Regions from separate parts of the Homo sapiens genome. Here region 1 is linked to region 2. Evidence: fine-mapped expression QTL. A gene starts in region 2. The other region holds a variant in brackets. All regions are shown on one strand. Distances are between the middles of the regions.

Evidence for each region. PIP is the estimated chance that this variant, and not a neighbour inherited with it, causes the effect.
Region 1: its variant is fine-mapped to the expression of LRWD1 in whole blood (INTERVAL, PIP above 0.99).

Annotation. Positions count from the first base shown.
Region 1 is chr7:102,435,066-102,440,429 of GRCh38, forward strand. It overlaps ORAI2 (ORAI calcium release-activated calcium modulator 2), which reads left to right. Exons shown (of 4, transcript NM_001126340.3): 2 at 1,160-1,268; 3 at 3,879-4,116. The coding sequence starts at 3,892. Among named protein-coding and RNA genes, the nearest start is that of ORAI2, 4.2 kb to the left of the region's middle. The variant C/G (reference allele first, on the strand shown) is at 2,792.
Region 2 is chr7:102,462,445-102,467,808 of GRCh38, forward strand. It overlaps LRWD1 (leucine rich repeats and WD repeat domain containing 1), which reads left to right and starts at 2,540. Exons shown (of 15, transcript NM_152892.3): 1 at 2,540-2,716; 2 at 3,373-3,607; 3 at 3,710-3,826; 4 at 4,895-5,035; 5 at 5,275-5,364. The coding sequence starts at 2,637. ALKBH4 (alkB homolog 4, lysine demethylase) reads right to left here and starts at 2,419. Exons shown (of 3, transcript NM_017621.4): 1 at 2,270-2,419. The coding sequence starts at 2,392. MIR5090 (microRNA 5090) reads left to right here and starts at 3,298; the gene lies at 3,298-3,382. RefSeq lists enhancers at 2,162-2,811, 2,941-3,467, 3,091-3,190, 3,468-3,993, 4,357-4,416 and a silencer at 2,321-2,750.

The DNA of each region.
Region 1 (5,364 bases), 27 kb before region 2:
TCTAGACCAGCCTGGCCAACATAGCAAAACCCTGTCTCTACCAAAAATACCAAAAATTAGCCAGGTATGGTGGCACACACATGTAGTCCCAGCTACTCGGGTGGTTGAGGCGGGAGGATCGCTTGAGCCTGGGAGGTAGAATTTGCAGGGAGCTGAGATTGTGCCACTGCACTCCAGCCTTGGTAACACAGCAGGACCCCATGTCAAAAAAAATTATTTTTAGAGACAGCGTCTTACTCTGTTGCCTAGGCTGGTCTCCAGCTCCTGGCCGCAGGTGATCCTCCCACCTTGGCCTCACAAAACACTGGGATTACAGGCATGAGGCACTTTGGCATGCAAAGGGCCGCTCTGTCCCCTCCCCGGTGTTACCTGCAAGCACCTTTTCCTGGCCTTGGTGTGAGGCAGCCAGTCCTCTGCTCCCTGCCCTCCATTGAAGCCTTTAGCTCAGTGGATGAGGATTGCCCCCCCCTCTTTTTTTTTTTTTTTTTTGAGATGGAGTCTCGCTCTGTTGCCCAGGCTGGAGTGCAGTGGTGTGCTCTTGGCTCACTGCAACCTCTGCCACCACACCCAGCTATTTTTTTTTTTTTAAGACAGAGTCTCACTGTGTCACCCAGGCTGGAGTGCCGCGGTAGGATCTCAGCTCACTGCAACCTCCGCCTCCTGGGATCAGGCAATTCTCCTGCCTCAGCCTCCTGAGTAGCTGGGATTACAGGCGCCCACCACCATGCCCAGTTACTTTTTGTATTTTTAGAAGAGACAGGTTTCCACCATGTTGTCCAGGCTAGTCTCGAACTCCTGACCTCTAGTGATCCGCCCACCTCAGCCTCCCAAAGATGACAGGTGTGAGCTACTGCTCCTGACCCACATCCCCTTACCTTGCTCCCCTACTGGGAGGCCATGAATTCTGGCCTCTTTCATCTTGGATCTTTAAGTACCAAGTGCGCTAAGCACCTGTGTGATGGAGGAGGGAGGACGGAGGGAGCAAAGGTTAGCGTCTCACCCCTCCAGTCTCTGTATACTGCGGTCATCAGACCTGCATGCTCAATTCTGTTAACTATGGGGGTGGGGGGAGAGGAAAAATGCAGTTTCCAAATTACAGCATTTTCTATTATGTGGAGCTAACCTACGGATTGCAGCGTTTCTCTGAATTCTCCCCAAGGGAAGGAACGTCCCAGGGATGGAAGTGCTTGGATGCGGTGCTGCTGGCTGCGGATGTGCGCAAGGAGATGGGATGGAGAGCCTGAGTTGGCATTCGTATAAATGACCTGGTAATTGGCATCCCCTGGCAGAAATAGCACAGAACTGTTCCCAGAGGTCTTGTTGGCCAGGGAAGGCTGTGGCTTTGTAGCCTTGTTGAGAACAAAGGGAAAGGCGACACTGTTTTCCACCTCCAGCACCTTCCTGCGTAATTTCCAAATTGGGGCATTTTCAATTATGGGGGGCTCGACTCTGGCATGGATGGACTAAGTTTGGGGCATTTCCTCAGCTGCTGACCCTGTTAAGCACTCCCCACTCCACCCGTCCACCCCAGCCACGCTCCCTGGGACCTAGAAACACGGATCTGTGTGTAACAGCCTGACATAGACTTTCCGTGGGGCCTATGTGGGCCTGGACATAGAAGTTACTCTTTTCGTTTCTTTTTTTTCTTTTCTTTTCTTTTTTTGAGACGGAATCCTGCTCTGTCACCCAGGCTGGAGTGCAGTGGCGCAATCTTGGCTCACTGCAACCTCCGCCTTCTGGGTTCAAGCGATTCTCTTGCCTCAGCCTCCCGAGTAGCCGGGATTACAGGAGCCCGCCACCACACCTGGCTAATTTTTGTATTTTTAGTGGAGACAGGGTTTCACCATGTTGGCCAGGCTGGAAAAGTCACTCTTTTTGATGTCAAGTAAACCACAAGATGCCTGTGCCCTTGAAGCACGCCCTGCAGATTAATTAGAACTGGATCCTGGCGTGTGGCCGAGCAGCCCAGCTCCTTGGGACACACGCGACCGCCAATCCCCTACTTAGTGGAGATTTGGGTTTAAATTCACAAATCTTGACAGATCTGTCCTTCTGATGTTTAATCCGTGTTAGTCAAACCAGATGTTTACCAGGTGTGAGTCCAGGCATCTCCGCCTTCTGTTTCTCCTTAAAATGTGGTCATGTGAGTTGGTGGATTTCATTTTTCATCTTGCTAAAAGTTTGCCTTGTAGCTTGGATGTGGCTTTAGTTATGTAAGTCCAATATTTTTCTTAGGGTGAACTGTACTGATCAAAATTTAAGTTGAAGGCCAGGTGCGGTGGCTCACACCTGTAATCCCATCACTTTGGGAGGCTGAGACGGGCAGATCACCTGAGCTCTGGAGTTCAAGACCAGGCTGGCCAACATGGCGAAACCCTGTCTCTACTAAAAATATAAAAATTAGCCAGGCATGGTGGCACATGCCTGTAATCCCAGCTACTCGGGAGGCTGAGGCAGGAGAACGGCTTCAACCCAGGAGGCGGAGGTTGCAGTGAGCCGAAATTGCGCCACTTCACTCTAGCCTGGGTGACAGAGCGAGACTCTGTCTCAAAAAATAAATAAATTTAGAAAATAATAAAATGTAAGTTGGATCTGTGAAACTAGCAGCTACTTGGAAATGTTTATTCCATGGCTGGCACCTGGATGTTGGAAGAAGTCTTTCGTCTTCAGATGCATTATCTTATTCAAAAGCCCTAGAGGTGAGGCCGGGTGCAGTGGCCCACACGTGTAATCCCAGCACTTTGGGAGGTGTAAGAGGGAGGATCACTTGAGGCTAGGAGTTCAAGACCAG[C/G]CTGGGCAATATAGTGAGATTCCCGTCTCTAGGAAAAATTAAAACATTAGCAGGCATGGTCCTGTGCTTATGGTCCTAGCTCCTCAGAAGGCTGAGGCAGAAGCTTCCCTTGAACCTAAGAGTTCGAGGCTGCAGTGAGCTGTGATCGTACCACTGCACTCCAGCCTGGGCAACAGAATGAGACTCTGTCTCTATTTTTAAAAAAAGTAGGCTGGACGCGGTGGGTCACACCTGTAATCCCAGCACTTTGGGAGGCTGAGGCAGGTGGATCACCTGAGGTCAGGAGTTTGAGACCAGCCTGGCCAACATGGTGAAACTCCATCTCTACTAGGAATACAAAAATTAGCCAGCTATGGTGGCGGGCGTCTGTAGTCCCAGGTACTTGGGAGGCTGAGGCAGGAGAATCGCTTGAAGCCGGGAGTCAGAGATTGCACCACTGCACTCCAGCCTGGGCAACTCGGCGAGACTGTCTCAAAAAAATATATCAAATCAAATAAAATAAAAATAAATAAAAAGTCCTACAGGTGGAAATATCCCCATTCTCACGATGAAAGAGCCAGGTCAGAAAGGTCAGCTGTCATGCTCAGAATCACACAGTAGAGTCAAATCCAGGTTTCATAACTTTAGGTCCTGGAAGGCTGGGCGCAGTGGCGCATACCTATAATCCCAGCAGTTTGGGAGGCTGAGGCAGGCAGATCACTTGAGGTCAGGAGTTCGAGACCAGCCTGGCCAACATGATGAAACCCCGTCTCTACTAAAAATACAAAAATTAGCCAGGCGTGGTGGCGGACACATAATCCCAGCTACTCAGGAGACTGAAGCAGGAGAATTGCTTGAACCTAGGAGCTGGAGTTTCCAATGAGGTGAGATTGCCCCACTGCACTCCAGCCTGGACGACAGAGTGAGACACTGTCTCAAAAACAAACAAACAAAGAAACATAACTTTAGGTCCTGGGCACTTTCTAAACCCCTGGGCTCTGGCGTGGGCTGTATATGGCAGCCTCTGTAGGTTGAATGGGCTTGGAGTCTAGCTCTTCCAGGCCGCAGTAACCTAGGATGTCTGAGCATGTCTCTCTCCCACCCTTAGCCTGGCTCCCACCATGAGTGCTGAGCTTAACGTGCCTATCGACCCCTCTGCTCCTGCCTGCCCTGAGCCCGGCCATAAGGGCATGGATTACCGGGACTGGGTCCGCCGCAGCTACCTGGAACTGGTCACCTCTAACCACCACTCGGTACAGGCCCTGTCGTGGCGGAAGCTCTACCTGAGCAGGGCCAAGCTGAAGGCCTCCAGCAGGACCTCCGCCCTCCTCTCCGGCTTTGCCATGGTGAGTGTGGGCGCCAAGTGAGGAGCACACTGGTCAGATGGGCTTTGCTAACTGAGGTCCCGGGATGCCTCAGGGACCAGAGCCTTCCCTCCAGTCTCTGGCAGCCAGGATGGACCAGTAGGAAGCATCCACCCACGTCCCAGCTGCTCTAAGAGGACGACTCTATCAGTGCGAGTGGGGGCGCTGGGAGTTGCCAGGGGCTCCCAGCTCTAGAATCTTCAGAAAGCCCACTTTGTCCTGTTCACATCAAGTATTTGCTTAGCAAGGAGGGAGGTTGGTGCGGGGTAATTATAGTAGCTCAGGTTCTGTGACTCACACCTGTAATCCCAGCACTTTGGGAGGCCAAGGTGGGAGGATAGCTTGAGGCCAGGAGTTTGAGACCAGCCTGGGCAACACAGGGAGACCCCTGTCTTTACAAAAATAAAATAAATAATTAGCCGGACGTGGTGGCGTGCACCTATAGCCCCAGCTACTTGGGAGGCTGAGGCAGGAGGATCACTTGAGTCCAGGAGGTGGAGGCCTCAATGAGTTATGTCCACACGACTGCACTCCAGCCTGGACGTCAGAGTGAGACCCCATCTCTAAAAAGAAAAAATAAAATTTATTTATTTATTTTGGCCAGGCGTGTTGGCTCACACCTGTAATCCTAACACTTTGGGAGGCCGAGGTGAGTGGATCACTTGAGATCAGGAGTTCGAGACCAGCCTGGCCAACATGGTGAAACACCGTCTCTACTAAAAGTACAAAAAAATTAGCTGGGTATGGTAGCAGGCGCCTGTAATCCCAGCTACTTGGGAGGCTGAGACACAAGAATCGCTTGAACCTGGGAGGCCGGAGGTTGCAGTGAGCCAAGGTCACGCCACTATACTCCAGCTGGTCAAGAGTGAGACTTTGTCTCGAAATAAATAGATTAATTAATTAAAAAGATAAAATCAAATCAAATCGCTGCATGGTACAGGGTTTCCTGAGAAAAGGCGCCCATGTCTGCCCCGTCTCAGGCACCACCCAAAAGTTTGGAACTCTCAGGGATCTCTGAGCAGGGCCTCAGAGATTGATTGGGGTTGGATCAGTTTAGCCCAGTTAGCGATGCAGACGTTCCTGGAATCTGGCCTCCAGGGTGACAAAGGAGAGCTTTTGGCCTGGCTCCCAGCGGCCGCCTTCCTTCTGAGTCATCCCCTAGGACAAGAGTCAGTTTCCGACAAAGCTGCGGCTCTGACAAGGGGCCCATCTCCTGTTGACTCCAAAGCC
Region 2 (5,364 bases):
GCAGCCTTGACCTCCTGGGCTCAGGCAATCCTCCCACCTCAGCCTCCCAAGTAACTGGGACTACAAGCACACACCACCACACCTAGCTAATTTTTAAATTTTTTGTAGAGACAGGGTCTTGCTATGTTGTCCAAGCTGGTCTCAAACTCCTAGACTCAGGCGAGCCTCCTGCCTCAGCCTCCCAAAGGGCTGGGATTATAGGCATGAGCCACCGCACCTGGCCCCTTCCACAAATTAAAACTCTTAAGTTCATTCATATTGTTGTACAGCCGTCACCACCATTCAGAACTTTTTCATCTTGCAAAACTGAAACTCTTTCCCTATTAAACAACAGGTCCCCATCTCCCCTTCCTGAGCCCTTGGCAACAACCCTTCTACTTTCTGTCCCTGTGACTACCCTACGTAGCTCACACAACAGGAATCATGCAGTATTTGTCTTCTGTGACTGCTTCCTTAACTTAGCATCGTGTCCCCAAGGTTCGTCCATGCTGTAACATATGTCAAAATGTCCTTTTTTTTTTTTTTTTTTTTGAGACAGGGTCTCACTATGTTGCCCAAGCTGGAGTGCAGTGGCGTGATCACAGCTCACTGCAGCCTTGACCTCCCAGGCTCAAGCAACCCTCCCACCTCAGCCTCCTGGGTAGCTGGGACTACAGGTACGTGTCACCATGTATGGTTAATTTTTTTGTAGAGGTGGGATTTCACCATGTTGCCCATGCTGGTCTCAAACTCCTGGGCTCTGGCAATCTGCCTGCCTCGGTCTCCCAAAGTGCTGGAATTACAGGTGTGAGCCACTGTGCCCGGCCTGTCCTTCCTTTTTAAGGCTGAATAGTATTCTACTATGTGTATGCACCACATTTTGTGGATCAAGTCATCTCTTTTTTTTTTTTTTTTTTTTTTTTTGAGAAGGAGTCTTGCTCTGTCACCTGAGCTGGAGTGCAGTGGTGCGATCTTGGCTCACTGCAACCTCTGCCTCCTGGGTTCAAGCGATTCTCCTGCCTCAGCCTCCCGAGTAGCTGGGATTACAGATGTGCCTCACCAAGCCCGGCAAGTTTTTGTAATTTTAGTAGAGGCAGGGTTTCGCCATGTTAGCCAGGCAGGTCTCAAACTCCTGACCTCAGGTGATCTGCCCACCTCAGCCTCCCAAAGTGCTGGGATTACAGGCGTGAGCCACTGAACCCGGCCCAGGTATCTTGATAGATGCTTGGTTTGCTTCCATCTTTGGGCTGTCATGAATAATGTCGTGAATATGAACATGGGTGTGCAAATATCTCTTCCAGACCCTGCTTTTAGTTCCTTTGGATATATACCCAGAAGCAGGATTGCGGATCATGGGTAATTCTATGTTTAATTCATGAGGCATGCCATGCTGTTTCCATAGGACCTTGGGCACTTTTACCATGGACGTTGGGGCAGTCTTCACTGGCTTACCAGCCTCCACACCTTCATATCTGCCCGTTCCCTTCCCAGGATCTTTCTAAAATTCACATTTGACTTCATCACTCCTTTAAAACCCTTCAAGAGCTCTCCAGGGCCTTTGGGACAAGTCCAGCCTGCTCAGCTGATGCACCGGGGAGCATCTGTGATCAGACCTCCCCCCCCCCACAACCTCTCCAGCCTCATCTCTCTCACCTGAGGCATCACCAATCCACCTTCCTACCCCACGCAGTTTTCTGGGTTGGAATGCCCTTGCAACCAACCACAGTCCTTCCATGCCAGCCCAAAGGCGCTGAGTTCTTTTTCTTTTTTTATTTATTTTCTTTTTGTGAGACAGAGTCTCGCTCTGTCGCCCAGGCTGAAGTGAGGTGGCTCGATCATAGCTCACTGCAGCCTCCAGCTCCTGGGTTGCAGCGATCCTTGAGTTCCTTTTCGTTAGTTAACTGGAATTCACTGTCTCCTTGCCCATTGCAGTCCACGGCCTTCAGGCACCGTTGGACTGGTATTCAGCACCCTCGATCGACCCTTTCCGTGTCATCTCCCTGCAGGCCCGTGAAGCTCCCAGCGCCAGACCCGAGAGGCTACGTCGAGGTTTACAGGCAGATCCCCCCAGAGTCCCCGAGGTGACCTGTAATCGAACCCACCCACGTTCCAGCTCCTTCCCCACTCCCAAGCCCGCTCCTTAAAGCCCTCATCTCCTCACCCTGCATCACCCCTACCGTAAGGGTCCCTCACAGGCTTCGATCCCGGCCCCTATCATGGCCAAGCTGGACCTCAGTTTCCCCAGATGCAGAGCGACGTTTGTGGGCGCGGCCCCTCTCCCACCCCTTACCGCTGGGGGCAGCTCCCAGGGCGGGTCACTGCCGCGCTGCCGCTCGCAGATCAGACAGGTCCGGATGCCCTTGCAACCGCATTCCCGAAGGACTTCGGGGGTCTCGGCGGCAGCCGCCGCCATCGCGCCGTCCGCGTGGCCAGTGCGCAGGCGCGGCCGTGGGGGCCGCTGGGAGTTGTAGTCCGCGCCGGGCGGGGGCACGAGGCCTGGGTTCCGCTTCCTTCCGGTCGTTAACGCCCACGGGCTCGCGCGGCGCCGCCTCCTGGGCTCAGTTACCGCGGACGCCAGTGCCGGGCTCCAGGAGACGCAGGGCGACGCCACACGCCGGGGTGGCCGACTGGGTCAGCGCGGGCTGCGCCTCCTCGCCATGGGCCCCCTCTCGGCGCGGCTGCTAATGCAGCGCGGGCGCCCCAAGAGCGACCGGCTGGGGAAGATCCGGAGTCTGGAGTAAGAGCCGGGCAGCGGGTGAGGCTGTGTCCTCGGGGCCGGGCGGTCGGGGAGAAGAGCGGGGACCCTCCCCAACGGCCCGCTTGTCCCCGTTATCGCCCTCTGGGTTCGGCAGAGTGGTCCAAATGTCTTCTTGTTGGGAGATCGTGGCCCCACCCGCTCGCCGGGAGCCCCGAGGGGCCTCATCCCCTGAAGGGAGCCCGGACAGTTAGGGGCACAGCCTGCCGCTATCGTTAGAGGGCCTGGGAAGCACAGACGAGCCCCCGAAGGATCAGGAAGAGCATCCTAGAGGGGGCTAGGATGCCCCCGAGTCCTAAAGTAGTTGCAGCTTTTTTTTTTTTTTTTTTTTTTTTTTTTTTTTTTTTGTTAAGTGGTGTGGAGTCGGGAGTAGTGGCGCGCGCTTCTAGTCCCAGCTACTCGAGAGGCTGAGGCGGGAGGATCCCTCAGCCCAGGAGTTGGAGGCAGCTGTGAGCTATGATCGCGCCTAGGCGACTGAGTGACACCCCGTCTCTAAAAATAAAGTAACGGGGGGATGGGCGGGGCGGCTACACTTGTACGAGAAATGTCAGGTGAAAAAGCCTTCTGAGGTACCCGGGGCAGATTGGTGTAGGGTGCAAAGCCTGCCCGCCCCCTAAGCCTTCTGCCCCCAACTCCAGCCTGTCAGGATTGGAGCTGCTTTCCGAGCACCTGGACCCCAAACTCCTGTGCCGCCTGACGCAGCTGCAGGAGCTTGACCTGTCTAACAACCACCTGGAGACGCTGCCGGACAACCTGGGCCTGTCCCACCTGCGTGTCCTCCGCTGCGCCAACAACCAGCTGGGGGATGTTACTGCCTTGTGCCAGTTCCCCAAGCTCGAGGAACTCAGCCTGGAGGGCAACCCCTTCCTGACGGTAAGTGGGAGCCTCCCACCAGCTTCATACCTGGGGCCAGGACTCTGTTGGGCTCAGGCTCAGCATCTCCTGAGCCACTGCTCTTCACCCTCTCTTCCCCAGGTCAATGACAACCTGAAAGTCTCCTTTCTCCTGCCCACGCTCCGTAAGGTCAATGGCAAGGATGCGTCCTCAACTTACTCTCAGGTGGAGAACCTGAATCGGGAGCTGACCAGCAGGGTAAGGGGATGAGAGGATTATTGTGTGCTTAGGAGCTGTGGGGGCATTGGGAGAATGATAGAATTGGACATCAGGAGGATGTTGAGGAGGGTGACTGATAGAGGCTCTTTGCCCCAACAGCCCCTAGCCTGATGTGCTACTTTATTTATTTATTTATTTTTTGAGATGGAGTCTCACTCCGTCGCCCAGGCTGGAGTGCAGTGATGCGATCTTGGCTCATTGCAACCTCTGCCTCCCAGGTTCAAGTGATTTTCCTGCCTCAGCCTCCCGAGTAACTAGGATTACAAGCACCTGCCACCATGCCCAGCTAATTTTTTTTGTATTTTTAGTAGAGACAGGGTTTCACCATGTTGGCCAGGCTGGCCTCAAACTCCTGGCCTTAGGTGATCTGCCCGCCTTGGCCTCCCAAAGTGTCGGGATTACAGGTATGAGTCACCACACCCGGCCTGACTCTTCTAAGTAGCTTTTTCTGGGGTGTTTCTTTTTTACCTTTTTTTTTTTTTTTTTTTTTTTTTTTTTTTTTTTTTAGAGACAGGGTCTCGCTCTGCTGCCCATGTTGAAGTGCAGTGGTGTGATCGTATCTCACTGCAGCCTCCAACTCCTGGGCTCAAGCGATCTTCCCGCCTTAGCCTTCTGAATAGCTGGGGCTTTAGGCGCATGCCACCACGTCTGGATCATTTTAAAATTTTTTGTAGAGATGGGATCTTGCTCTGTTCCCCAGGCTCCAACTCCTGGCCTCAAGCGATGCTTCTTCCTCAGCCTCCCAGTGGCTGGGACTATAGGCACCTGGGTTGTTGCTGGTGTGTGTGTGTGTGTGTGTGTGTGTAGGCACCTGGGTTGTTGCTGGGGTGTGTGTGTGTGTGTGTGTAGGCACCTGGGTTGTTGCTGGGGTGTGTGTGGGGTGTGTGTGTGTGTGTGTGTGTGTGTGTGTGTGTGTGTGTGTGTTTTATGAGGCTGTGATTCCAGGAGGCTTCCAGCAGGTGGCGGGATTGAGATTCCCTGAGATGGAGGGCTGGGTCCGGAGGAGCTGGGGTGGGCCGGGCCTGGATCTGGTCCCTCTTGCACCAGGTCACAGCTCACTGGGAGAAGTTCATGGCCACACTGGGTCCTGAAGAGGAGGCTGAGAAGGCCCAGGCGGACTTTGTGAAGTCGGCTGTCAGGGATGTCCGCTACGGGCCCGAGTCCCTCAGCGAGTTCACCCAGTGGCGGGTATGTCCCTGTCCCAATGTGCAGGGAGTCACTGGCTCTCGTATCTCTAGCTGCCTGGAGGTCCCTGGCCATGAAGGGCTGAGGGGCTGTGGGAGTGGGGTGAGTCAGGGTGGGCAGCCCTGTTGGCTGGAGAGGCCCTTCCCCAACTCTGGAAGCATAAGCTCCCCCTGACTATGCATCGGCAGGGCTGGGGGCACCTGGGACTCTGCCCAGCTTCCTGATGGCCTGGCCCCACCCAGGTGCGGATGATCTCTGAGGAGCTGGTGGCCGCCAGTAGGACCCAGGTGCAAAAGGCTAACAGCCCAGAGAAGCCCCCAGAAGCTGGAGCT